Homo sapiens: one gene and its partners. The protein of the gene in region 4 interacts with the protein of the main gene of each other region in a biochemical or structural test. Each region holds a gene or a part of one and is shown on either strand. Other genes may lie near its edges.

Evidence for each region.
Region 1: the proteins of DAPK1 (region 4) and NECAB1 form a complex in vitro, tested with the Homo sapiens proteins (one large-scale study listed by BioGRID and IntAct).
Region 2: the proteins of DAPK1 (region 4) and SH2D2A form a complex in vitro, tested with the Homo sapiens proteins (one large-scale study listed by BioGRID and IntAct).
Region 3: the proteins of DAPK1 (region 4) and AHDC1 form a complex in vitro, tested with the Homo sapiens proteins (one large-scale study listed by BioGRID and IntAct).
Region 5: the proteins of DAPK1 (region 4) and CAPRIN1 form a complex in vitro, tested with the Homo sapiens proteins (one large-scale study listed by BioGRID and IntAct).
Region 6: the proteins of DAPK1 (region 4) and SNX9 form a complex in vitro, tested with the Homo sapiens proteins (one large-scale study listed by BioGRID and IntAct).
Region 7: the proteins of DAPK1 (region 4) and TBC1D22B form a complex in vitro, tested with the Homo sapiens proteins (one large-scale study listed by BioGRID and IntAct).

The regions. Positions count from the first base shown.
Region 1 is NC_000008.11:90,955,775-90,959,893, forward strand, and holds the end of NECAB1 (N-terminal EF-hand calcium-binding protein 1), read left to right. Parts: 3' UTR 1-3,232; coding exon of another isoform or gene 3,233-3,256; 3' UTR 3,257-3,619; downstream 3,620-4,119. Other genes in the region: uncharacterized protein C8orf88, read right to left, coding at 3,233-3,256.
Region 2 is NC_000001.11:156,806,849-156,810,348, forward strand, and holds part of SH2D2A (SH2 domain-containing protein 2A), read right to left. Parts: intron 2,960-3,500; coding exon 2,813-2,959; intron 2,643-2,812; coding exon 2,355-2,642; coding exon of another isoform or gene 2,289-2,354; exon of another isoform or gene 498-2,288; coding exon 330-497; 3' UTR 327-329; exon of another isoform or gene 1-326. UniProt on the Homo sapiens protein: Could be a T-cell-specific adapter protein involved in the control of T-cell activation. May play a role in the CD4-p56-LCK-dependent signal transduction pathway. Could also play an important role in normal and pathological angiogenesis.
Region 3 is NC_000001.11:27,601,345-27,605,345, reverse strand, and holds the start of AHDC1 (transcription factor Gibbin), read left to right. Parts: upstream 1-1,201; 5' UTR 1,202-1,240; intron 1,241-1,482; 5' UTR 1,483-1,618; intron 1,619-1,851; 5' UTR 1,852-1,949; intron 1,950-4,001. UniProt on the Homo sapiens protein: Transcription factor required for the proper patterning of the epidermis, which plays a key role in early epithelial morphogenesis. Directly binds promoter and enhancer regions and acts by maintaining local enhancer-promoter chromatin architecture.
Region 4 is NC_000009.12:87,700,367-87,703,866, forward strand, and holds part of DAPK1 (death-associated protein kinase 1), read left to right. Parts: intron 1-2,662; coding exon 2,663-2,851; intron 2,852-3,500. UniProt on the Homo sapiens protein: Calcium/calmodulin-dependent serine/threonine kinase involved in multiple cellular signaling pathways that trigger cell survival, apoptosis, and autophagy.
Region 5 is NC_000011.10:34,054,731-34,058,230, forward strand, and holds part of CAPRIN1 (caprin-1), read left to right. Parts: intron 1-3,500. UniProt on the Homo sapiens protein: mRNA-binding protein that acts as a regulator of mRNAs transport, translation and/or stability, and which is involved in neurogenesis, synaptic plasticity in neurons and cell proliferation and migration in multiple cell types.
Region 6 is NC_000006.12:157,896,246-157,899,745, forward strand, and holds part of SNX9 (sorting nexin-9), read left to right. Parts: intron 1-581; coding exon 582-753; intron 754-3,500. UniProt on the Homo sapiens protein: Involved in endocytosis and intracellular vesicle trafficking, both during interphase and at the end of mitosis. Required for efficient progress through mitosis and cytokinesis. Required for normal formation of the cleavage furrow at the end of mitosis.
Region 7 is NC_000006.12:37,285,272-37,288,771, forward strand, and holds part of TBC1D22B (TBC1 domain family member 22B), read left to right. Parts: intron 1-1,735; coding exon 1,736-1,801; intron 1,802-3,500. UniProt on the Homo sapiens protein: May act as a GTPase-activating protein for Rab family protein(s).

The DNA of each region.
Region 1 (4,119 bases), on a different chromosome or scaffold from region 4:
AAAATCCTAATATGTGGAAAAAAGCATATGCATAAAGGAATAATATTGTGAAAATGAATCTGTTATGATAAAGAAAAAATAAAGTGGAAACTTTTAGAGTATTACTTCATAGGGCAGATTTTGTAAACTGTCGTATACTGTAAAGGGTTAAATCAGCGTTTTGTGATTTTTAAGTAACTGTGAGTGAAGTTTATTCTTCAACAATGTCTACTCCATCCCCAACCCAACTCACAGCCCTATGACTACTATCTTTGCATTAGTTAAAAAGTTAGTATATAGGCATCAAACAACCTTGGCTGTAACCTATAGAATCTCTATCCACGTATCAGGTTATAGACTGGTTTTTCAAAAGTGAACAATCCTGTGATAAGTTGGAGTACCATTTAGTAATACAGCAACATTGTGTCATTTATTAGCATCATAATTCTTTGTTATGTAAGTTAAATATATCAAGAAAGAAGAGACTGTTTGGAAAAATGTGGTTCAAGTTTTATGCTATATAGTTTTGGTATGCGATACAGACAGCTAACTTTTCTTATGAAAAATACATATTTGCATGTAAACAATGATTTCAAAATACTTGAAAAATAAAATTTTAACCCAAATGAATAACTAAGAAATATAAAACAAGCACAAAATCTTAGGGAAGTCATAAAATAGTAGTGAAAGTATTAGACAGAAGACATCTGTTTTCGAATTTCAACACTAGAATGACTAAAACTATCTACCTATAGAACTATCTGTAGATAGTATACTATCTACACTCTGCTCAACAAGCTCAGAAATTAAATATTTTTAATAATAAAAATCTGTTCTGGTTATAAACCTTGCTAATGAAAATACAATACATATAAAAATGTATAGCCATGTTATTTTCTAGTATAAATTCCTTTGAAACTATAAGTCTTTGAGGAAAATTATAAGGTAAAATTTTCCTGTTTTTCCCCCTTTGAAAAACTCAGGAAAAAAGGAAGATTGAACTAATAAAATTTTATTTCTTAAATATAAATTTGACCTAAAATATTTTCTCAAACTAATTCATGAAACAGCAACTTTTACCAATACCTTTGTATACTCTCAGTTCTCATTCAGTATAAATAAAATTTTAAAATCCTTTCATAGTTCTATTAGAAATAAGTAGTAAATTTTGATATATTGTACATACACACGTGTGTGTGTGTGTGTGTGTGTGTGTGTGTGTGTGTGTGTGTATTTGTGTGCCTCTGGTCAACTCTAAGGATGACAGACACTGTGTAACAACACCTGGGTCAACTCTTTTAATTTATATACAAAGCAAAGAACAACATTAATGGAGATGCACAATGATTATTCAAACAAGCTATATATATGTACAAAGGCAAACAGACACATAACAGTCTCTGCAGACTGATTGTATATAGTAAGAAAAGATCAAAAGACTTTAAAACCTAAATGACTTTTGACATACAAACTCTTCTTGAGAATGTTTGTTGTAAATGGTTTCAAAAATACAAATTATAGCCAATCAAAACATTGCTTTGGTTGGTGCATTTAAGTATCCAACTCAAAAAGCATATCAAATATTTTGGGTACTAGGCAGTTTCCAAAGTAGCATGGTAGTATTACTTGTTAAAAGGGTTCTGTTTTCATTAACAGTACTAAGTGGAAGGGATCTGCAGATTCCAAACTGGAATAAGCTCTATCATATTCTGAAACAAGAATTAGAATGACTTGAGAACGGGCAAATAACAAAGCAAACCAATATAATTATATGGTCATTCTGACCCCAGCTCTTATACAAATTATACATGTATTTTTGTGTATGTTTGTGAGAGTTGTATGTATGTGAATGTGTGTGAGTGTGTATTCACATACACATATATACTGGAACCTATAGTAGAAAAGGAAACTAGTAGGGCCAAAAAAAAAAAGAAAAAGAAAAAGAAAAAAGAAAAAAAAAGAAAAAACTGGGACCTAAGTATAAATATCTCATCCTAAAGTAAACAATAAGTTTATAGTTAACGAAGATTTTTTTCTATTTAAAACCCCATTTTCCTAAAGAACAAAGTAGTAAAATAAAAAAAAATTTAAAAAATTAAAAAATAAAAAAAAGAGGTCACTAAAAGACCAAGATGGGAAACGTAACATGGAATACAAGCTTGAATCTGGGAAACAAGCTCAAAAAACAGTGAAAAAAAAAGTACTGGTTTAGGAGTTCAAAATTCAGTGAAACAAACTTTTTGCCAATAGACCTAGGGATCTAAGAAATAGAATTAGGGAGAGTTTACACTTACTTACCTATATATCAGCAGATTTTTCTGGAAGAAACCCTTTTTTTTTTTTTTTTTAAACAGTAACATCCAGAGTGACAAATTGCAGGAGATTTAATGTATAAAATTTCTAGGAATTAAAAGCTTAAACCCAAAAATTGTTCATCCATATATAAGAAATTATCGAATTAAAACTTAATGTATGTCAATTATTTTCAAATGTCTAAATTCCTTTGGAAATAAAAATATCAGTTTTACTTTGAAATTGCTCAACTTCTGCTATTCATATGGTCTGATTAGTGACATAAGTAGCAGCCGTTTTTCAACTTCAGTTTCATTCACTACCATTGTTTCCAAATTATCAATCTCTGCTAGTAATTATGAATTTAAGACCATATTATTATCAAAAACCTAGAGACCAATCATATATCTGAAAAGAAATACCCATTAAAAATTCTGCCTCCTGTTTATTGAGAACTATGCATTGAACATTCTGAATCATTCTAAGCCTCTGGAGAGACTGTAATGATCCATTCATGAGCTGGTATGAAATCAGTGGGAAGCAGAACAACAGAAGGAACTTTAAAAGCAACAAGCAATTATGTACCATATATACACTGTAGCAAATATTTTATATTTGAGAGTCTTTACAGCTTACATTTCCATTCCATTATTACAAGTGATGAAAAACAAAAAATTGCAAGTAGTATGCAAATTATAAATATACAGTCTTCCCACTTCACTAACCAAATTCCTACTTTCCAGTGTTACTTCCCAATTTATGCAGGAAACCTCCTGCAAAGCTGAAACTGATTAGAAAATTCTTTATATTTTAAAATAGCTCTTTCTCATTTTTAGAGAAGTCAAATAGCCAACCATCAAAATTAAGAATAAATTGAATTGTCACAGTCCATTACAGTTATTGTTGCTAGATCCACCTCATTTGCAGATGTCCAAACTTAAATTCATCTGTTCTTAAAATGCTACTTAAAACTTTGGTTGTTTTCCTGTAATATAAAAGAAAAAGTTAATTTATCAATTGATTGAATACAGTTTTTACTAATTAGTTTATCAAACCAAATACTGTGAACGTACCAGGTGTTTACAGATTTAAATGCATGTTACCATAGAAACTATTAAAGTAACTAGAACTGTCAAATAACAAAACGGCTCATGTTTTTAAAATATATGTAACTCATTTTAAAATATATTAAATTGTATTCCAAACCTGTTCTTCTGTTTCTGTGGCACCTAGGTTTAAAATATGTATTAATGTGTAAATCACAAGTAAAATGAATTCTAATGTACAAGTTTGTTTTAAAAAGTGTATGTCAAGCTTTTATTTACACAATAAAATGTTATTAAAGATGGAAAGTCTACAAATGAAAAAGTGACTATAGTTTATATAGCACTGAAGTTTACATTTATTCTTACAGACCATGGATTACATATCCCAAAGATCTTTGAACCGGTGGGAAAGTTGAAACATCAAGTACATTTTTTCTTATTTAATATTTATGCATGAGAAGTATTATAAAAAATTTTAATTCCTGCTTTAATTAACTTTAAAAAGAATTGGCTAGAGATCTAAAGTTAGGGAGTTTAAGAAATATTAATATAAACTATGAACAACATAATGTTTTTTAAAAATTATAATTTGAGGAAAAAAATACTATGAATTCCAAAGAATTAGAATACCAAAAATGGAGATAGAAGGTAGTAGTGTTTATCTCCCATTCGAACTGTTCTCAGTATACCTATATTCTGAATCTCATTTCAGAAGAGTCCTAGCTGCCTTTACCTATATAAAGGTATTTACGAAAACTCTAATAGGAAGTTAAATTCCAGTCAAATGTAAGTAGAGACCACA
Region 2 (3,500 bases), on a different chromosome or scaffold from region 4:
TAAGGACAAATGTAATGCTGCTCATCCTCCCGCTCTTACCCGTGGCAGACATCACTAATCAATCATGTGCTTTTTTTCTGCTGAGTTCAGATATGACCTTAACATCCTTTCCAATGCAGCACTCTAGGCAGCCACGACCAATGGATTGGAGTTGGCATGCAAGATGACACCTCTTTGCCATCCTTGCAATAGATGATGGCTGAGCTCCTTTCCAGCTTTGAACACCTATGGTTTATTCCATCCACATTTCTTGAGAAGTGTGCCAGGTGTGTGTGAAGGTCTCTGGACCTGATGCTCCAAGTTATCCTCACCAAGCTCAGACTTACCGCCTACTGAGGAGGCCCAAGGGGAAGCCATGCCTGTCCTCTGTCCTGAAGCACCTGTCTAGAAAGATTGTGGGGGAGGGTGTGTCTCCAGGCGGGTGGGGGCTGGTGGGGCAGGGGAGGGCCTTGCCCAATCACAGAGTTCTCAGAATGCAGCTGGGAGCCACCTGTATTCTGCAGAGAGAAGGACAGTTCTAGGTCACACCCTCTACCCTCTGCCTCCTAGGTGTACTTGCAGTCTCAAGACATCTGATCTGAACAGACTTTGGCTTCCAGAGAGGGTATCTAAACTCCTCTCATTCATTAATTCAACAAACATCTCCTGAGCACCTGCTCTGTGCCAGGCACTGGGCTGGGTGCTTTGGAAACAGATGGGTAAGTCCCAGCCCCTCCCTTCAGGGAACTCACACTCTAAACTAGGGAAGGGACAGAGAGAAGGAGATGGGAGGAGATGGATGTCTCAGGTGATCAGTGGCATGGCAGGTGTGTGTAAGGCACAGGGGGTGGCCTCTGAGAAGGGAAAGCTGGTCTTGAAGGATGATTAGAAAGTTGCCAGGCAGCGGGAGGATGAGGTTGCAGGAAGTTGCTATAGGCAGAGATACTGGCGGGTGCAAACCCCAGGAGGCTTGAAACCACTTGGTGAGTTTAGAGAAATGTGAATCATTCTAGGAGAATGGGAGTGGCTGGTGGTAAGGCTAAGGAGGTGAGACCCCCCACCCAACCCAAGTCTAGAGTGCTTCATGGGCCAGGCAGCTGCTTCAGCAAGACCATTCTGGCTCTTTGGTGCAGAGTGGATCAGAAGTGGCAAGAATGGTGGTTAGGAAACCAGTTAAGAAGCTCTTGGGAGCCAGGTGAGGTGGCTCGAGCCTGTAATCTCAGCTGAGGTGGGAGGATCACTTGCACCCAGGAGTTCAAGTTTGCAGTGAGCTATGATTGTGCCACTGCACTCCAGCCTGGGTGACAAAGCCAGACCCCAATGATGGGGGCTGGAGCTGGGGGAAGGAAAAATATACTTAGGAAGAGATCCAGCAGGAATGAGTGGCTTACTGGGGGAGTAAAGAGGGAGCTGTGCTGAGGGAGCCCTGGGATTCTGGCTTGGCTAGCTGGGTAGCTGGAGAGTTAGCAATCAGGACAGTGAACATGGGACCGAGCTGTTTGGAGGGCAAGGGTGAGAGCGCTGTTGGCCGTGTTGAGTTTGAGGGGCTCAGGGATGCTGGGGGGAACTGACCAGAAGCTTGGAAAAAAGTTTGGACGGAGATATGGACAGGTGACGTTAGCTCTAGGACAGCAGACGTTGGCAGGGGTGTGGGTGAGCGCGAGCAGGCTCAGGCTGAGCAGGGAGCCTGGGGCACCAGCAAGGAGGGAGGATGGGGAAGGGTCTGAGGAGGGAGGCTGGGGAAGGGCTTTGGGAGGGCCGCAGAGGCCGAGGGAGAGGGTGGGATGGCTGCTGGGGCTAACCCATGGCATGAGGTACTGACTTGAAGGGTAGGCAAGAAGACTTAGGGCTGGGGAGAAGGAAGAGGGAGACAGGGAGTACACAGAAGCAGGCTGGGAGAGCAGGGTCCCCCTCCCCTGAGCTCACTGAGATGACATAAGGGAACCCAAGTGCTCTTTTTCTCCAGGACAGCAGGGCCGTGAAGGCCAAGGGAGAGAGCCAGAGAGGCACGGGGTGGGGTCAGCCCCAGGTGCGTCTGAAGAGGGCCTGCAGGACAAGATGGACGCAGATCAAAAAAGCCTCGATGTGGGAGGTGGAGGGGCACCCTGCCTGGGGGCCTCTGTTTTCTGTGTGAGATAGGAGGGCATGGGGGCTTGACAAAGATGAGGTCTGAGCGACTCTGGGGAGAAGAGGGGGCAGCCTCTGGGCCTGGAGAAGGGAGGCTGGTGCCTGGATCATTCTGTTCTTCCCACATCACCTCACACCTCTGCCCCTTACCCTGCCCCAGGCATCCACTCTGAACACCTTCTTCACCTTCCCCCATCTACCTGCAGGGAGACCTTCTTGCACCTACCTTTCCCTGCATACCCATTTACCTGGCCTCCTGGGACAGGCCTGGACCAGCTCTTCCGTAGGACAGGGTGCCCAAGGGTGGCGGGTAGGCCCTCATCTTCCACTTCCACATAGATGTTGCTGGGGGCTTCCCCAGGGCTGCCCCGGCCCATGGCATAGAAAGCTATGGGTTCATCAGGCTCATTGTAGATAGGATTGGAGGGCTTGGGGCGTGGGGCCGGGCGGTGTCGTGGAACAGGGATTGTGTAGACTTCTGGGGGCAGCTGAGGTTTGGCGGGGATGGGAGGCTTGGGCCTGAGCAGCTGGGAGGGCTGGGAGAGAAGGTGAGGCCAGGGAGGAGTGGGGTGAGGGAGGCAGGGTTAAAGCCCCAGCCTAACTCCCAGCCTGAGCCTCTGCCCCCGCTAGGCCCCTCCTCCTCCCCGCTGCCTGCACCCCCTCGCAGGCCTGTCCTCCCACTCCCTCAGCCCCTGCAGCCCAATACCTCCTTCTCCCCGGCCCCCTCTTTCTGCATCGGGACTGGGGCTTGCCCCTGTTTGATGATTGGGCTGTACTGGGGGTTTGGGTCCTGGCTTTTGCTTCCAAAGTTTGATTCTTCGGTCCTCAGGGAAAGTCCTGCAGGCTCAGGAGTCTGCTGGGAAAGAAGGAGGTCTGAGGCACTCGGTGGAGCGTTGGGGTGGGGGAGGTGATCAGGAGGACAAAATAATCCAGTCTAAGTGGAGGATGGGGGAAGGGGGAGGAGCACAGAAATTTGGCCTGGGCTGGGTTCCCTGGATGAGGAAGAGGGGGTGGTGACGGCAGGGAGACCCAGGGTTGGATGGAGGCAGTGGTAAGCTCTGGTCACAGGCCATATCTAGCATTAAAGTTTTTCTTTTTTAAGATAGAGTCTCACTCTGTTGCCCAGGCTGAAGTGTGGTGGTGCAGTCTCAGCTCACTGCAGCCTTGACCTCCTGGGCTCAAGCTATCCTCTTGCCTCAGCCTCCCAAGTAGCTGGGACTACAGGCATGTGCCACCACACCGGCTAATTGTGTTTTCATTTCTTGTAGAGATGAGGTCTCACTATGTTGCCCAGGCTTGGTCTTGAACTCTTGGGTTCAAGTGATCCTCCCACCTCAGCCTTCTTGCGTCTTAGGATTACAGGCGTAAGCCACCACACTTGGCTGCATTAAACT
Region 3 (4,001 bases), on a different chromosome or scaffold from region 4:
CACCTAGGACACAGGACACGACAGCCACTATGCATTATTCATCTCCGTGTCCCTTGCAAGCCCTGCATACCTCAGTTAACATTTGTTGAAGTGCCAAGAAAGGACACACAGACACAGGGAGAGAAGGTCAGTTACAGAAATGGAGGGAGTCACAACTCCTTGTCATAGCCCAGGGGTTAAGCTTGTGGGGTTTGGAGTTAGTCAGACCCTGGTTCAAATCCAGCTGGGTTCAGCCACTTGCTAACTGGAGAACCTGGACCTCAGTGCCCCCATCTCTAAAATGGAAATAACAGCACTATTTTACCGCAGCAGTTCAGCCATCTCCGGGGGCGGTAACAAGGCCCCCAAGCAGCGCACATTCCCATCTGTGGGATAGGCTAGGCAGGGGCTGGAGAACACATGTGACCTGAAGAGGAGGTAGGTGAAAGTGCTGAGCCCAGCCCCCGGCCGCGGCAGGAGGTCAGCACCGTTCAATCTGAATCCTGCTTCCTGACACAACGCAAATGCTCAGCAGAATTCGGAAAAGGGTGTGTGTGTTCTATCTGCGGATTATCCAGGACTTTTGAGCCCTCGCCGCCCTTGGACATATAGGAAAGCTGGGAGTTGCAAGGGCGAAACCGAGGTCGGAGTTTGAGAGGAGGGGTCACTGAGTGAGGAAGCAGCGCTGGCTGGGTCTCCCCCGCTCCCCCGCCCCAGCAGCCCTCCCGCCATATATACTTGAGCTTTACTCAATAAGAAACCTTTTCAGAAAAGGATAACGTCCCCAGATTGAGAGAGCCGGTCCTCTCCTCTGCCCTCTCCCCCTCCCATTTAATTGGGACGCCCCAGAAAGTCGCAGCCCCTTTGGCTAATCCCCTGGTTCCCTATTCCACTCCCATTCCACTCTCAGACCCCGCCCCTTCACTCCCACCCGCAACCTCCGCTCGATCCAGAGCCCCCCGGTGGAGACAAGGAACACAGGGACCATTCTTAACCCTTGGGGAGGATCTTCGCCCGTTGGTAAACGAGGACGCGCTCCAGCCAGACGAGCCCCAGGCGCGGGGTCCCCGGGGCTCCTGGCCGCGCCGTCGGAGCAGCCGGCGCGGCCCCGCCCTCCCCGCGCGCGGAGCGGCCGGGGCGGGGACTACAAGTCCCGGCGTGCCGCGCGCGCGCTCCCCCCTGGGGTTCCGGATGGTGAGCGGCGAAGGTAAGGCGAGCTCGCAGAGGCAGCGGCGGCGGCGGCGGAGACGGAGAGAGGCAGGCAGGCAGGGCGAGGGCGAGAGACGGAGGGAGGGAGCGAGCGAGGCGGACCAGACAGACAGACAGGCGGGCGGGCGGGCAGAGCGAGCCACCCGCCAGGCTGCGCTCAGCCCCGCTCGCAGCGGAGAGAGCAGAAGGCAGGAGGAGGGAGGGGAGGAGGGGGAGGGAGGGAGAGAGGGAATCCAGCTACCACCACCCAAAGCCAGCGTCTGCTTTCTGTCCTCATTTCCTTTTCCCACCCAGCTTGGAGAGCAGAGAAAGGCAGAGAGAGCGAGAAATAGAGACAGTCTGAGAGACAGACAGACAGCCAGAGAGAGCGGGAGGGAGGAGGGCGGAGGAGGAGGAGCAGGAGGACTACGCGGGGCGCGTTCCCTCCCAGGTTTGCTATTGGGGGGGGTGGGGGCGGGGGTGTCCAGGGCTGGGAGAGTGTGTGCGCGGCGGGAGGGCGAGGGGGGCGCAGAGAGAGCGAAGGAGTGATCGAGGTGGGGGGGCGCCGCGGGAGCGGGGGGCCGTGTCCAGCGGAGTTAGCGGCGGAGAATGTGAGCCGAGGCGCGAGCCATGCTGTCAGCGACGGCGGGCGGCTCAGGGCTCCTCCACGACTCCTCTCCTCAGCAGCCGGGCGCCCGCGTCGCTGCCACCGCCGGAAGACAGACGTCCCCCAAAACCCCTCGCCTGGCTCGGACCCACGGAGCCGGCAGCCCAGCACTCCGGTGAGTGGCGCCTCCTCCCCAGCCCCAGACCCCCGCTGGGGACCGGCCGGCCAGGCTCTTTTGTGCAGCGCACGGGGGGGGCCTGCGTCCCCCGGTCCGGTCCGCTGGACCCGGTGGCTGCGGTGCCCGCGGTGCGATCGGTCTTTGTTTCCACCGGGGCCCGCGGCTCGGCTGGGCTCGGCTCGAAGCCTGGCAGGCAGCGCCGGGAAGGGGGAGGGGGAGGTGGACGGGGAGGGGGGGCGGGGAGGGGGGGTTCTCGGGTTTCCTGGCCGCCCCGCGGCTCCCCCGGCTCGGGGGCGAGGTGCGCGCCCAGCGCTGCCGCGCGCCCCCTCCTCCTTCCCCCTCCCTCCGCCTTTGGATTTAAAACTGCAATTTGCTCTCCAGCTTGCTGAGAATGTGGGGGGGGGGGGAATGAAGGGGGGACCGTGGGAGCGGAGAACAAGGCTGGATTTTAGGATCGGCGCTGGGAAAAGGGGAGACTGCGGAGGGAGGAGCCCCTCCCCTCCAACCCCCAAATCCCTAGGATCCACTGGCTCTCGGGGAGTTGAGGGGCGGGGACCTAATGACCCGGAGGGGGTGTGGGGCGGAGGAGGGATTTGGGGGCGGCTAGGGCTGGAGGGGTTGGGCCGCGTGCCCGGTTACCTGGCGAACAAAGTCGGCTCACTTTTGCATAAATAAATAAATAATCGCCTATCAATGCGTTTCCTCTGGGGCTCTGATTGAATCGGCCCCCTCTTCCCCAGGGGGTGGGGTGCTGAGTGACAGCTGTCAGCCCCCTAGGCAGGGAGCTGGGGTGAATTGCTGAATCTCTGCTCGCTGCTTGAGGGCGCCTTCCCCTGCTGGGTCTGGGTCCCCGGGCAGAGCCAGAGGGGCAGGGGGCTGGCTCTGAGTCTAGGAAATAACCTTGTTTCCTGTTCTACAGGAAAAGGGACAGCAACCCAGAGTTTGGGGGCTGGGGATGAGGACTGATGGGAGCTTGGGGGGGTTCCCCAGCAGCCTGACCCCCCAGCCTCCTGCCAGGCGAAGGGGCCAGCTGAGGGAGGAAGGATGTGGGCCTTGCTGGCCGGAGGCGGGAGCTGGGGCTGTCCCTGAGGCGGGCAGCGGGCACAGAGCGGGAGGAGGGAGAGAAGCGGGGGCGGGAATTCTCTACCGCAGACCCTGGGGGCCAGGGCCAGATGTGGAGGGGTGGGGAGTCTCCCCTCCCTCCCAGCTTGGGGGCCCTGGGGCTGGGCTGGGAGGGGCTGAGCCTGGTGCCCTCGGTTCTGCACCAGTGCCTGACTGGCAGGGCCAGCTGAATTTGGGCCCAGGCGTCACCCTGGGAGGCAGGGCCGGACTGTACCAGCCTGGTCCCTGAGCACAAGGAGGGACCCTTGGGGGGCCTGTGCCTGTCTGGCTGGGCAGGCGTTTCCCGCCGGACCAGTTGGTGTCAGGCGGGACTTGGCCCCAGCTCCCTGGGCAGAGCTCAGGGTGTGAGGACAAGCTTTGCCTCCGGGTCAGGGTGGCCACATTTTGTCCGCTGCTGCTGTCGCCGCCGGCTGGGCGGGGGCATGTGCCCGGGCCTGGGCAGAGTCCTGCCAGGGGCATTTGGGGTGTTTCTATTGTTGGCTTGTTCCTGTTCTGTGTGGCTGTGTGAGCTGGGGCTGTAAGTGAAAGATTACCAGTCTGTCCCCCAACCTGGGGTGGGGGGGTAGGAAGGCTGGGTTGTGGGGGGACCCCCCAGGTGGCATGTGCATGCTGCTTGCCATCTCCCTCCTTTGAGCAGATGTATATTTATTTTTATAGTAATGGAAAATCAAACTGGATAGTAAGTTGAATTCATTTTTTTCTCCTGCTGTGTCAATAGTTGGAGTAATCCCCAGAGACTGGTGAACTTCTGGCCCCAGAGCTCCCACTCTTCAGGGGTTGCAAAGACCAGTAAGGGCATAAGCTTTGGGGGACCAGTGGCTACCAGCCCAAACCAGTGAGTTGTCCTTCTTCATCTGGCTTTGGGGCAGATGCCCAGGTGGGCAGGCATTGCCCCCTCCCCAGGAATCACCCACAAGCCCAAGGTGT
Region 4 (3,500 bases):
CCTGGGAAAAGAAAGGAAGAATAGAGAAACAAGGAGATGATGGGAGCTGAAGGGTTATTATGGGCAAGGTGGACCACTTCAATTTTATGAAATTCTTACCGATTTATTGGTTTCTTTAACAATATTTTATTTATTTATTTTATTTTTTCAGAGACAGGATCTCACACTGTCATCCAGGCTGGAGTACAGTGGTGTGATCATAGCTCACCGTAACCTTGAACTCCAGGGCTCAAGCAATCTGTCCATCTCAGCCTCCCAAGTAGCTAGGACTATAGGCACGCACCACCATGTCTGGCTAATTTTTTTGATTTTTTGGTAGAGACAGGGTCTTACTATGTTGCCCAGGCTGGTCTCGAACTCCTAGGCTCAGGTGCTCCTCCCACCTCAGCCTCCCAAAGTGCTGAGATTACAGGTGTGAGCCACCATGCCTGGCCAATTTTGGGAAAAAACCAAAAAATTCAAAAGTGACTTATTGTGGAATATTTAGAAAATTCAGAAAAGTAGAAAAACAGTCACAAACTTTTTTGAAAGACAGAAAAGAATAAATGAACAAAGGGAATGAGACTGTATTCTTGGGTTGCAAGATATGACTATTTTATTTTTCCCTAGTTATATAAATGTAATACAATTTCAGTTAGCATCTGAATGGGTTGAGGGGATTGGGATTTTTATCTTAAAATTTCCATGGAAAAATTCATTAAACCTATTATAAAGCCCCTGATAATCAATACAGTTAAATAGGAGGAAAAGCTTAGAGGGTATAGAAGTAAATCATAATATCTTTAGAAATATAATGGAAAATAAATATGTCATTTGAATTTAATGGGGTAAAGATTATTTAATAAATGAACCTGGCACAACTGGCTATTTGTCTGGAAGGAAATAAAGTTGGATTCCTACACCCTACAAAGTCCAAAAATAAATGGATTAAAGCTTTTAAGTAAAAACATGAAACAATAAATACCTTGAATAGAAATTGTGGAGAGTGTATTTTCAAAATAACTAGGGACTGAGGGAACCTGTTAAACCAAGATCTAAAACCCTAGAAATTTTAAAAGAAAATATACCTGTTTGAAAATGTAAAAATTTTTAAAATTTTTTTCTAGCAAACAAATTAAGTAAACAAAGTTGAAAGGTGAAATAGGCTGGGAAAAAGCATTCTCAATGCTTTGGACAGATAAATGGTCACACCGTAATGTTCAAAAAGCTCTCCGGAATTGGTAAGAAAAGGGCGAGCGTCCCAGTGGAGAAGTGGTGGCATTCACTCTGGAGTCTTCCTGCTGCCGAGGCCTGAGGACAAATGCGGGCAGATGCCTGTCTCCCTCTCTTACCTTTGAAGCTGCCTCTGGGTGTATTTTTTTTTTTTTTTTTTAACTGCTTTGCTAATAAGAAAATGCTGTGCTTCCCGCACCAGATTCTGGTTCTAGATGTGCTTCCAGAATTCTCGGGAAACCCTTTCCTGTCTCCAGAAAACCCTGCCCTTCACACCAGATATCCTCGTTGGGGTCCCACTGTGGCATCATCAGAAGATAGGGGGTAGTCCGGTGAGGCCTGGGAGGAATCTGTCACAGAAACCAGGGGCGGTGATCTGGGAACTAACAGTGGTCTCTGAGGGCCCCTGTGCTTCCCCACCAGGTCTGGATTGAGGCTGCATTCCTGAGGCAGGAGGGAGTGTCCCTGGAGATTTTTGAGCTGGGCTCTGGCATGATCTGCTGCTTCTCAGACACCCCCCGCCCAACCCCTAAACTCCTGAGCTCAGGCAGGTGGAGCCCACCACATCAACTGCACTCACCCCTGAGAATTTTGTTTTTGAATGCAGAGTGGAATTTAGCTGACACAAAAGAATTTGAGAGGGGAGTGCGGAATTAATGGCACGGTGTAGCCTGTGGCTTATGTGGTTTCTAATTCAGAGGTATGTGGATTACGTGAGTCTGTAACATATGCTGATCTAATTAACCAAGTTAAAAGGTTAAAAATCCACTTCAGCCTACATACCAAGAATGGGTCTAATTGGAAACAATATTTCAACAACAGTCCCCACGAATGCCTAATTTACTGGTAAACACTCACTCTAATATTGATGATGATACTCATTCTCTTTTCCTCTGTTCATAAAGTGATCATTGCCTGAGTGAAACAGTCACGAGAGAGAGAGCGAGGGAAGAAAGGAGGGAGGGAGGAAAAAGTGAGGGAGTGAAACATTAGGAGTTGGTGAACATTAGTTGATTGAGTGACTGAGTCCACAATTCCAAAAACGTTCCTAGAAGACTCAAAATCTATTTAACATGAACTAAAGAGCCTTTATAAAACTTTATATTTGAGCAATAGATGAGGCTTAAAAGCAAGTCTAAAAGACAACTGCCCCAGTACTCAACCCAAAAAACACAAACTAGCCAGACACAGTGGTGTGTACTTGTAGTCGGAGCTACTCAGGAGACTGAGACAAGAGGATTACTTGAGCCCAAGGGTTTGAGACCAGCCTGGGCAATAGCGAGACCCAGTCTAAAAAAAGAAAAAAAAACGTCAACAACAACAAAAAAACCCACTCGTTCATCAAATCACCTGCAAGGCGCCTGAATGAAAGGTGTCCTTTCCACTGTGGCTCTGCTCAGGGCACCCACAGCTGCAGGTGAGTTAACCTGTCTGGCCCTGCCCCCTCTAGGTCTGTCCTCCCATGACTCACCTGTGTGAGAAAATCATCTCCACGCTGCCTTCCTGGAGGAAGCTCAATGGACCCAACCAGCTGATGTCGCTGCAGCAGTTTGTGTACGACGTGCAGGACCAGCTGAACCCCCTGGCCAGCGAGGAGGACCTCAGGCGCATTGCTCAGCAGCTCCACAGCACAGGCGAGGTGAGCCCCTGGGAGCCCAGGCAGGGGGCCGTGAGAGGTGCCAGGGACTCAGCCTGTCCCAAATTCCAGCTCTTGGAAGTGGTGTGAGCCTGGGGAAGCAGTGTGGAAATGGTCCAGCTAACCTACAACATTTCCACACGTGTGACAAACACAGCCTCAAGTGACGCTCTGAACTGCAGTTCTCGGCTCACCTTAGGAGCTGTCATTTTGTCTTGTCGTGTTTTGCTTTTATTTCCAGAGTCTGTTAGTTTGGGAGTGCAGTGCCCACTGCCCTGGGTGACTGGGTCTCTCTTCACTCCCCCTGGGCACCAGGAACTTAATCTGCTACTCCTGGCAGCCTTCAGGATGGCTTCTTTGTATCAGCGTGGAGTCATCAGCTCCACACAGATCTCCTGGGTGGGAAAACAGTTGAGAAAAGGCAGTGAGGTGTCCTTGTGGAGGCAATGTCTGGAGATACAAAGACAGAGAACTCTGGTGCACAGATACACAGAGTAATCATAATTAAAGATGCACATTAAAAAACTCTAGCAAGCAATGCCCAGCAGAAATGATTGAGAATGGGAGGCTTTGCTCTGGTTCTGTGACATTGAGCACCAGGGCGCGGTTTGGAAACCCTGTTCTAATGGCATCATATGCCTGTCCCAGGAAC
Region 5 (3,500 bases), on a different chromosome or scaffold from region 4:
AAAATTTTAATGCAGTAAGCAAGCCTGCTGATCTGGCTGCTACTTGAGTTTTTGATTCTTTAGAATTTCTTGGAAATGTTTTTTTCTAGGACAGTAATTGAACATAAAATATTAATGATTGTGAACATTAATAATGTGTTAATACTAATTATGAACATTAATGATTAGTGATATAAAGTGTAGAGACATTAATGACTGAAAGATAACTCCTCAGAGAAGTTAATATAAAGGTAGGTGCTGATTGGCAGCCAATTTAGTTGTGAGGTGGCTGTTAGAATCTAGTGTTCAAGTACTTCTGAAAAAAAAATATAAATCTAGTTTATAAGCCCCTCCTGAGGACTTGAACCATGACTGGTCATTAAATGTGTATAGGTGTATGTGAATTACTATACTCTGTCATACCCTACCCTCAAGTGATTTTGTTATTTTATTTTTATTTTTTGAGATGAATCTCTGTTGCCCAGGCTGGAGTGCCCAGGCTGGAGTGCGGTAGGATGATCTTGGCTTCCTGCAACCTCCACCTCCCGGGTTCAAGTGATCCTCCCGCTTCAGCCTCCTAAGTAGCTGTGATTACAAGTGTGCGCCACCACCCCAGGCAATTTTTTTTTCTTTGAGAAGTCTCGCTCTTGTCCGCCAGGCTGGAGTGCGACGATGTGATCTCGGTTCACTGCAACCTCCGCCTCCTGGGTTCAAGCGATTCTCCTGCCTCGGCCCCCCGCCCAGAGTAGCTGGGGTTACAGGCACCTGCCACCACGCCCAACTAATTTTTGTATTTTTAGTAGAGACAGGTTTTACCTTGTTGGTCAGGTTGGTCTAGAACTCCTGACCTCAGGTGATCCAGCCGCCTCGGCCTCCCAGAGTGCTGGGATTACAGGTGTGAGCCACCATGCCGGGCCTCCCCTAAAGTCATAAAGGAGAAAATAATGTAATTATTACATAGGTTATTAACTAGGCTAATACATACTGAAAGATTGCCGTGTTAATAATGGAGATTCAACAAACTGCACAAAGTAACTTTTTTTTCTGTCTTCTCAGTGTTTTAAGTGGTAGATAGCAGCAAAAAGGTCAAGTTACAGTTAAGTCTTGAGACTTTGATAAGCCACAGACTGAACTCTACCTACATGTTAAGTAGTTAAGTTGGCAGTATTGATGTTGACTTAATTGCTATTAAAACTATATCTTTTGCCCTTTGAAAAACCCAGGGCATTTGGATTTGCCCTAAATTTAAGCACATCTGGTTTTTAGTTTAAATCCTTTTTATATTTAGATGATTTACTTGTGAGAAGACTTAACTGTTTTTAAGTATAAGTGAGCATTTCTAATGCACTAAAATAGGATTGCTTTACAAATCAGTTTTGAATTCCTCTTTAGAAACCCTTGTGGAGTAAAGTGAGGTACTATTTACAATTAGATTTGTTTTGACTTCAGTCCATTTAGCAACTTACATTTGAGCTTTATTTCAATCTTGACCTATTCTTATCGGAGCCTTCTGGACCAAAATGCTTTTTTTATGGATTTTAAAATCAAATATCCTGGCAAAAATGACTATGGATATGTAGTATTGCTTAAATTAAAACAGAGAATTGAAATAATTTTATTGTACTTTAAAAAACAAAGTTGTTTATTTCCTAATAATTTGAGCCATTAAAGAAAAAGCTAAGCATCTGCTCATTGAGAATGCATGCTCTTAATGTTGATGAAATATGATCGTGTTATGTAATGCAACTAAAAGGCTTGGTGGGTTTTTAAATTCAGGCTTATAAAGAGTACATGAATGTTTAGCAAAGAGAAGAAATACAGCTGTGATAATCAAGTGTAAAATCCATTTGCAAATCTTACAGGTAATATTGAATTGAATGATTAACTGCCTAGTTTTCTTTATCAGTTCATTGGTGCTGAACTGGGCCCTAGGCTATGCAAGATATTTCAAAACCAAGTCTTAATTTTAACTGAAGAGAGACCTCATTTGATATTATTAGATGTAATCAGTTGTGATATAGAATAAAGGATGTTTTAATAGATGACATTTAAAATTGTTATATTCTTTGTGAATATAATAGGTTTAGACTCTAGTGACTTTGGTAGGTGAAAGATTAACTAATGATCACTTGCGTAAAATGCAAAAATAGCCTGACAGCTTTTTAACCACTAAGTGACCAAAACTGATAGCCAGAAGTGTAGTGTTTTTAATACTTTTTCCTGAAGGCTTTCTGCACTTCATCTTTGCAGTTAGTAGTATTCTTTAAAAAGAATGCTGTTGTTGTGAGGGTAACATTTCTTTCTAGAACGTTGCAGTGTGTCTGTGCTTAGAATTTTCATTGCAGCTGTTGTGCAGAACTTATGTGTTCAGTGTTTTAAAATAAAAACATTCTTAACTATTTTATAAGTAAAATCTTTCCTTGAGGCTATTACCTGAAGCCTTCTTTGACATTTAAGATCTCTTGATGTGTTTGCTTTTCCATGGGTTGCAAGAACTATTCTTCTGCAATGCAGAGGGCAAGATTATTTTGCATTCACCTTGTCATAGAAAAAAGCTGTAATGCTTAATTTGTTTCCCTTTGCTTGACTGTGTGTGTTTGTATGTGTAGCACTGGGAAGTATTTAAAGCTGTGAATTCCCCCAAGTGATAATGGGTACCTTTTTCTAGGGTGAGAGTCGAAGCCTAAGTATTACATTGAGAATGTATTGTTTTAACGTGGCCAAATTAGTGTACTCTAGGATACTACCCATGTGGCAGATATTTGAGAATGCATTTTGTGTGACTTACAGATTAAGCATACAATTTGCCAAAATTTTATGTAATTAATTTCCTAGTTTACATTTAGGGCTAGATGAAGACTAGTACTGTTTCATCTTTTAGAAAAACTAACACTTTTCCTTTAGTAAAAGTGTTAATTTTTGCAATACTTTTGCAAAAGGTTAAACTTATAGCAATTTTGTCATAGCTATAATCTTACACTGTTATAAAATTTAGAGGATTTTTAATTTTTATTTATTATCATTATTTGAGACAGTTTTGCTCTCGTTGCCCAGGCTGGAGTGTAATGGCATGACCTCGGCTCACTACAACCTCCCCCTCCCAGGTTCAAGCTATTCTCCTGCCTTAGCCTCCTGAGTAGCTGGGATTACAGGCGCCCGCCACCACGCCCGGCTAATTTTTTATATTTTTAGTAGAGATGGGATTTCACCATGTTGGCCAGGCTGGTCTCAAAACGCCTGACCTGAAGTGATCCACCCACTTCAGCCTCCAAAGTGTTGGGATTATAGGCATGAGCCACCATGTCCGGCCTAAGAGTTTTTTTTTAGAGCTTAAACCACCTTAGAATTTAGTCCAGTTCATTTTATAGAAGACAAAATTGAGATGTTTATATGGAATGACTTAGGTTGGAATGGGTGATTTCCAAAATTCTCGCAGTTTTTTTTGAAACAGAATCTTGCTCTGTCGCCCAGGACTGGAGTGCAGTGGTGCAATCTCAGCTCACTGCAACCTCTGCCTCCTG
Region 6 (3,500 bases), on a different chromosome or scaffold from region 4:
TGCATATACTTTTATTGTTTGAATTTTTTTTATTATACATGTATTCCATTTCAAATTAAAAAGCCTACTTAAAAATACAACAGATCGCTATAAAGCAGTTAGAAATAGGTCCTCATGTTGAGTGGGAAAAAGAAAACTTGCAAAGAGATACATACAGTATGACATCCTTTAGGTCAATTTTAAAAATATAAAGCAGTTGTTTGTGAATGTGTACATGTGCAGCTGAAGTATGAAAACACACATAGGAATGGATACAGGTTCAGAAAAGTAGTGGTTACTTCTGGAGAGAAAGAAAGAGAGGGCTGTAGCTGCATCTAATAGTTTCTTTGTTGCTGTTTTCAAAGTTCCTAAGCAAATACGGTAAAATGTGTTCACATCAGTAAAATTAGATTGATGCTACCTTTTGTGCTTTCCTACATGTTTGGAAATTAAAATATTATGTATGTAAAATTGTTTTGAATACATTTCTATTAATTGTTTTTAGTACTCCTGTTGTATTCAATTGTGTCAGTTCATTATTGAATTGAGTCATGGTTTCCAAAAGTCACAAAAATTCTCCTTCTTTTTACCCCTCTCAATAGGTTGGCAGTGGCAATGACCCCTGGTCAGCCTGGAGTGCCTCCAAATCTGGGAACTGGGAAAGCTCAGAAGGCTGGGGGGCCCAGCCAGAGGGGGCTGGAGCCCAAAGAAACACAAACACTCCCAACAACTGGGACACTGCCTTCGGCCACCCCCAGGCCTACCAAGGACCAGGTGAGGAGAGGGGTGCAAGGTCCCACCCTGCCCGCCCATGGCTGAGTGGGAGAGACAGGGAAGACCGAACTGTTTTTGCTGTTCCCACACTCAGCACAACACAGAACAGTTTTGTGACCACAGCATGGGAAGGGAGGATTGCCCCACCCACCAAGCAGCTGTGCAGCAGACACCAGCTGAGTGTCCTACAGTCATGACACTGTCTACCTGGAGTCAGATCAAGGGGGTTCCCACCACTCCCACCTTGGGTTCAATTAATCTGCTGGAGCGGCTCACAGAACTCAGGGAAACACTTTACTTACTACTGTCAGTTTATTACAAAGCTCAATTTACAGGATGCAAATAAAGAGCCAGATGAAGAGATGCATAGGGCGAGGCATGGGGAAGGGACGCAGAGCTTCCATGCCCCCCTGCCCCAGGTGCCCCTACATGTTCAGCACCCCAGAATCTCTTTTCCTGTAGCTCAAGGATTTTTACGGCGGTTTCATCACATAGGCATGATCGATTATTGTTATTATTATTCTTTGAGACAGAGTTTTGCTCTCGTTGCCCAGGCTGGAGTGCAGTGGCACAATCTCGGCTCACTGCAACCTCCGCCTCCCAGGTTCAAGTGATTCTCTCACCTCAGCCTCCTGAGTAGCTGGAATTACAGGAGCCCACCGCCCACCGCCACACCCGGCTGATTTTTTGTATTTTTATTAGAGGCAAGGTTTCACCATGTTGGCCAGGCTGGTCTCAAACTCCTGACCTCAGGTGATCCACCTGCCTCAGCCTCCCAAAGTGCTGGGATTACAGGTGTGAGCCACCATGCCTGGCCGGCATGATTGATTATTAACTCAACCTCTGGCCCCACTTTTCTTTCCAGAGAATGGGAGGTGGAGCTGGAAGTTCCAAGCTTCTAATCCTGGCTTGGTCCTTCTGTTGACCAGCCCCCATCCCACCAGGAGTCACCTCATTTGAACAAAAGATGCTCCTACCACCCGGGAAATTCCAAGGGTTAGGAGATCTGTGTCAGGAGCCAGGGTCAGAGACCAAATATCAGAACAAAAGATACACCTTGCACACCTAACATTCAGGAAGTTACAAGAGTTTTAGGAGCTCTGTGCCGGGAACTAGGGACGCAGACCAGATGGCTATTTCTTACCTCACAATACCACTCTGGGTCATTGAGTTGAAAATAGATTTTATTCAAAAGAACTGCTTGCAGTTGCCCTTATTCACTAGTAGCAAACCTGGATTCAATTGTAGATGGTCATTAACTCTAACTTTAGTTCAGTCTTACTTATCTGTGTGAAGTCACAGATTCAAACGCTGGGTTGGTAAAGTAAAAGCAGAATGGGCGGTGGAGGCTGCAGAAGGCTGAGGGCCCCTGCTGTCGCCCGTGGATCACTGCATTTGCAGGGAAGCTGAGCCCACGTTCTGATCTCCACATCTTCAGAGAGATGAGAAGTCTTGGTTATTTGTCACCTTCTGATTTTAACATCTCAGCAGCTAACACGTTTGTTTTAAAATCTTGAGCCAGAAACGTGTATGTGGATGGGATGTGGCTCATCCTGCTGGTTTAAGACCTCTGCATTCACTGTTTTAACTTCCTGTTTGACTAGGCTATGAATAGAAATACTGAGGCAGAAGAGAAATGTGTGGAATGGGAAATAATTTGGGAATTAAGGGTATTTATGTCTGATCTGAAATTAAATAAGAAGGTAGTCTCCCATTATTTTTTAACAATTCCTGAACCCTGTCTCCTCTGTAAGCACATTGGGCCAAGAATTGAATGTCTGTTCTAAACAGCAAGGACCTCACTTGTAAGCCCAAAGCAGGGTGCAGGTCCCGGCTGAAGGCTGGCAGTCATAGACAGGAGCTGCCTGTCAGCAGGACCAGGGGTGTGGGCTGGGTAGAAGCGTTGGGAGACTCCTGGGGTCTGGCTCTCTGGTCACTTGGCCCACATCCTTCTCATAGTTTGTTCTTCTCCCATTTGGCATTTGTCTCTCGGCTTCTCCATAATGGCACTCTTAGGACCTGACACTAAAGGACACTCAGGCCGTTAGAGTAGGGGAGGAAGGAGAAGGAGGAGAGCCCACAGGGGAGGAAGGAGAAGGAGGAGAGCCCACAGGGGAGGAAGGAGAAGGAGGAGAGCCCACAGCACCTTATCTGACACGGGGATTATTGTCAGAATAGTAGCTACTGATGCTGCTTAATTACTTCTTCACTCTCATCTTTTTCTCCCACACCCCAACTCGGTCTTTTTAATGTCCCCCTCGTTGCCCTTCTCTCCCCTTTATTGTTAGTGTTAAACAGCTGCTTTTCAAAGTTCTGTCGTCCCTTTCGTCCTCCCCAAGCCTCTAGAATTAAAGGGTATTCTGCTTATTTGTAAATGTATAAGACTAGATTTATCAGTGTCTAGGCCTCTAGAAGTCTTTTCTACTGTGTACCACTTAACATTCTTACAGTCTGCATTTATCTGAAGTGATGTGGACTGACAGCCCTTTAAAAAAATTATCTATATTTTCACGCCTGTAATCCCAGCAGTTTGGGAGGCCGAGGCAGGCGGATCACAAGGTCAGGAGATCAAGGCCATCCTGGCTAACACGGTGAAACCCCATCTCTACTAAAAATAGAAAAAAAATTAGCCGGGTGTGGTGGCAGGCGCCTGTAGTCCCAGCTACTCGGGAAGCTGAGGCAGGAGAATGGCCTGAACCCAGGAGGCGGAGCTTGCAGGGAGCCAAGATTGCGCCACTGCACTCCAG
Region 7 (3,500 bases), on a different chromosome or scaffold from region 4:
CAGCTTCAGTTACTGAAGGCCAACTCCTTTTGGTCCTTCCCCACTTTTTTTTTTTTTTTTTTTTTTTTTTTGAGATGGAGTCTCACTCTGTCGTCCAGGCTGGAGTGCAGTGGCGTGATCTTGGCTCACTGCAGCCCCCACCTCCTGGATTCAGGTGATTCTCCTGCCTCGGCTTCCTGAGTAGCTGGGATTACAGGCATGTGCCACCAGGCCCGGCTAATTTTTTCTTTATCTTTTTTGAGACCGAGTCTTTTTCTGTCACTTAGGCTGGAGTGCAGTGGCGCAATCTCGGCTTGCTCCAGCCTTTGTCCGCTGGGTTCCAGCGATTCTCCTGCCTCACCCTCCTGGATAGCTGGGATTACAGGCGCACACCACCACACCCAGCTAATTTTTGTAATTTTAGTAGAGATGGGGTTTCGCCATGTTGGCCAGGCTGGTCTTGAACTCCTGGCCTCAGGTGATCCACCCACCTTGGCCTCCCAAAGTGCTGGGATTACAGGTATGAGCCACCATGTAATTTTTGTAATTTTAGTGGAGACGGGGTTTCACCATGTTGGCCAGGCTGGTCTCAAACTCCTGACCTCAAGTGATCCACCCGCCTCAGCCTCCCAAAGTGCTGGGATCACAGGCGTGAGCCATCGCCCTGGCCCTTCCCCGCTTCTTACACATCATGACTTCATAAGCAAGTTCATCTCTGGTTCCCTATTTTAGGACATTTTTGCAGCTTTCTGAGCTCTTCTAGTTCTTAGGAACTGTTGATGAGTAAGATTCTGAAAGATGGGTACCTACTTGGATCATACCTGCTACATACATGCCAGCCCAGAGTGAAACAGACTTCAGAGCAATAAGAAAAAACCCTTAATCTGTGAAGCCTATTGCCATTTGACTTTAGTGGTTTCTTTTGGGAGGTTTCCTCACTGTTTAATAAGCTATTGTTGTCATGGAAACATGTTCCACATGGGCAGGTAGGTATAACTAGATTTTTTTCCTGTGTCAGTCACTTCTTTCTGAAGATAAATTGTGTTTTCTTACTACTTTGATTTCCATTTCTTTTTTTTTTTTGAGACAGAGTCTTGCTCTGTCGCCCAGGCTGGAGTGCAGTGGCCCGATCTCGGCTCACTGCAAGCTCCACCTCCCGGGTTCACACCATTCTCCTGCCTCGGCCTCCCGAGTAGCTGGGACTACAGGCACCCGCCACCACGCCCGGCTAATTTTTTGTATTTTTAGTAGAGACAGGGTTTCACCGTGTTAGCCAGGATGGTCTCGATCTCCTGACCTCATGATCCGCCCGGCTTGGCCTCCCAAAGTGCTGGGATTACAGGCGTGAGCCACCGCACCCAGCCAGATGATTCCCATTTCTTTAAAAAAAAATTGTCAAAAGAACAAACTGGGCCAGGCACGGTGGCTCACACCTGCAATCCCAGCACTTTGGCAGGCCAAGGCGGGTGGGTCACCTGAGGTCAAGAGTTCGAGATCAGCCTGGTCAACATGGTGAAACCCCGTCTCTACTAAAAATGCAAAAATTAGCCAGGCCTGGTGGCAGGTGCCTGTAATCCCAGCTACTTGGGAGGCTGAGGCAGGAGAATCGCTTGAACCCTGGAGGCAGAGGTTGCAGTGAGCTGAGATAGTGCCATTGCACTCCAGCCTGGGGGACAAGAGCGAGACTTCATCTCAAAAAAACAAAAACAAAAAAAAACTGGCATTTGTGTTTTTGGACATGCCTTCTCTTTTTCAGATTCACATTGACATTCCAAGGACGAATCCTCTCATTCCGTTGTTCCAGCAACCACTTGTACAGGAGGTGAGGGAATTACTTAATGTTCTTTGGCGCTTCTCCCCGCATAGTTCTGTGGCACCTGTTTACAGGTTTGCGGCTAATCATAATAGTACCTTATGTTCATATATGCAGCTTTGGTTCCTTCAGAGCATGGTTTCATACATTTTCATTTGATCTTTGTTACAAATCTGTGAGCGGAATAACACTTTGAAAGGCTAAGGAACTTGCTCAGAATTTTGAGGCTACCTGGTGGCAGAATGAAGAACCCACATCTTAGAATTCCTATTCCTGTATTTGCTCTACTTTATCAAGCTGGAAGTAGTGATTTTTTAAATTGTGGTAAAATATACATAATATAAAATTTACTGTGTTAACCATTTTTTAGTGTACAGTTCAGTGGCATTAAGTACAGTCACGTTATTGTATGACCATCATCACCATCCACTTCCAGAACATTTTTCATCTTCCCAAACTGGAACTCTGTATCCATTAAATATTAACTCTCTTCTGCAGCCTCCATTCTATTTGTCTCTAAGAATTTGACTACTCCAGGCAGCTCAAATAAGTGGAATCATACAATATTTGTCCTTCTGTGACTGGCTTATTTCACTTAGCATAATATCTTTAAGGTTCATCCCTGTTGTTGCATGTGTGAATTTCCTTTTTTAAGGCTGAGTAATATTCCGTTGTACATATGTAACACATATTGTTGAGCTGTTCATCTATCAGTGGACACATGGGTTGCTTTCACCTTTTGGCTATTGTGAGTAATGCTGCTGCTAGTATGGGTATGTGAATATCTGTTTGAGTCTCTGTTTTAAATTCTTTTGGGTATATATTTAGAAGTGGGAGTAGTAGTTATATTTTGAGACCTAACAAGTTAATGAAGTACATGGAAGGTGTCAGTGGGGCTATTATGTTTTGACTCAAGCAGTAACTGTAAACTTCTTAAGATTAGGGATTTCCTTTGCAACTTTACAGTAGCCAGGACACTAAGTACTAGTGCTCTTTTAACGGAACTTTCAGTTCTCATAGTAGAGAGGGATGGTGGTTAAAATGCTGAAAATAATTTCTATTTGACTTTGGGTTATATTTATAATTTTGTTTAAATATAGATGTCTCCACTGGTGGGGTCCCTCATGTCTTACCCATAGCATAAAGAAGATTTTGAAGGTAACATCATTATTTTAACTATAAGATTCAGCTCACAGGAAGCTAAAAACCCATTCATGATCCCTTTATCCTCCCATACAGTTTTCCATGGCTCAGCACTGCTTATTCCTCATTTTAACTTGGAGATGTTCAGAGACTTTTCTTTTACCTGTGCATGCTTACTCTGAATTTGGAGATGAGGAAAGTAGTCAGTTTAAAAGGCTTCTCAGCCAGGCGTGATGACTCACTCCTATAATCCCAGCACTTTGGGAGGCCAAGGCCAGAGGGATTGCTTGAGCCCACGAGTTTGAGACCAGCCTGAGCCTAGGAGTTTGAGACCAGTCTGGGTAACATAGCAAGACCCTGTCTCAAAAAAATTACAGAATTAGCCAGGCATGGTGGTGTGTGCCTGTGCTACTGTGCCTGTGCTACTTGGGAGGCTGAGGAGGGAGGATCTCTTGAGCCCAGGTGGTCAAAGCTGCAATGAGCCATGATCGTGCTACTGCACTCCAGCCTGGGTGACAGAGCAAGATCCTGTCTCAAAAAAAAAAAAAAAAAGAGGTTGGGGGGT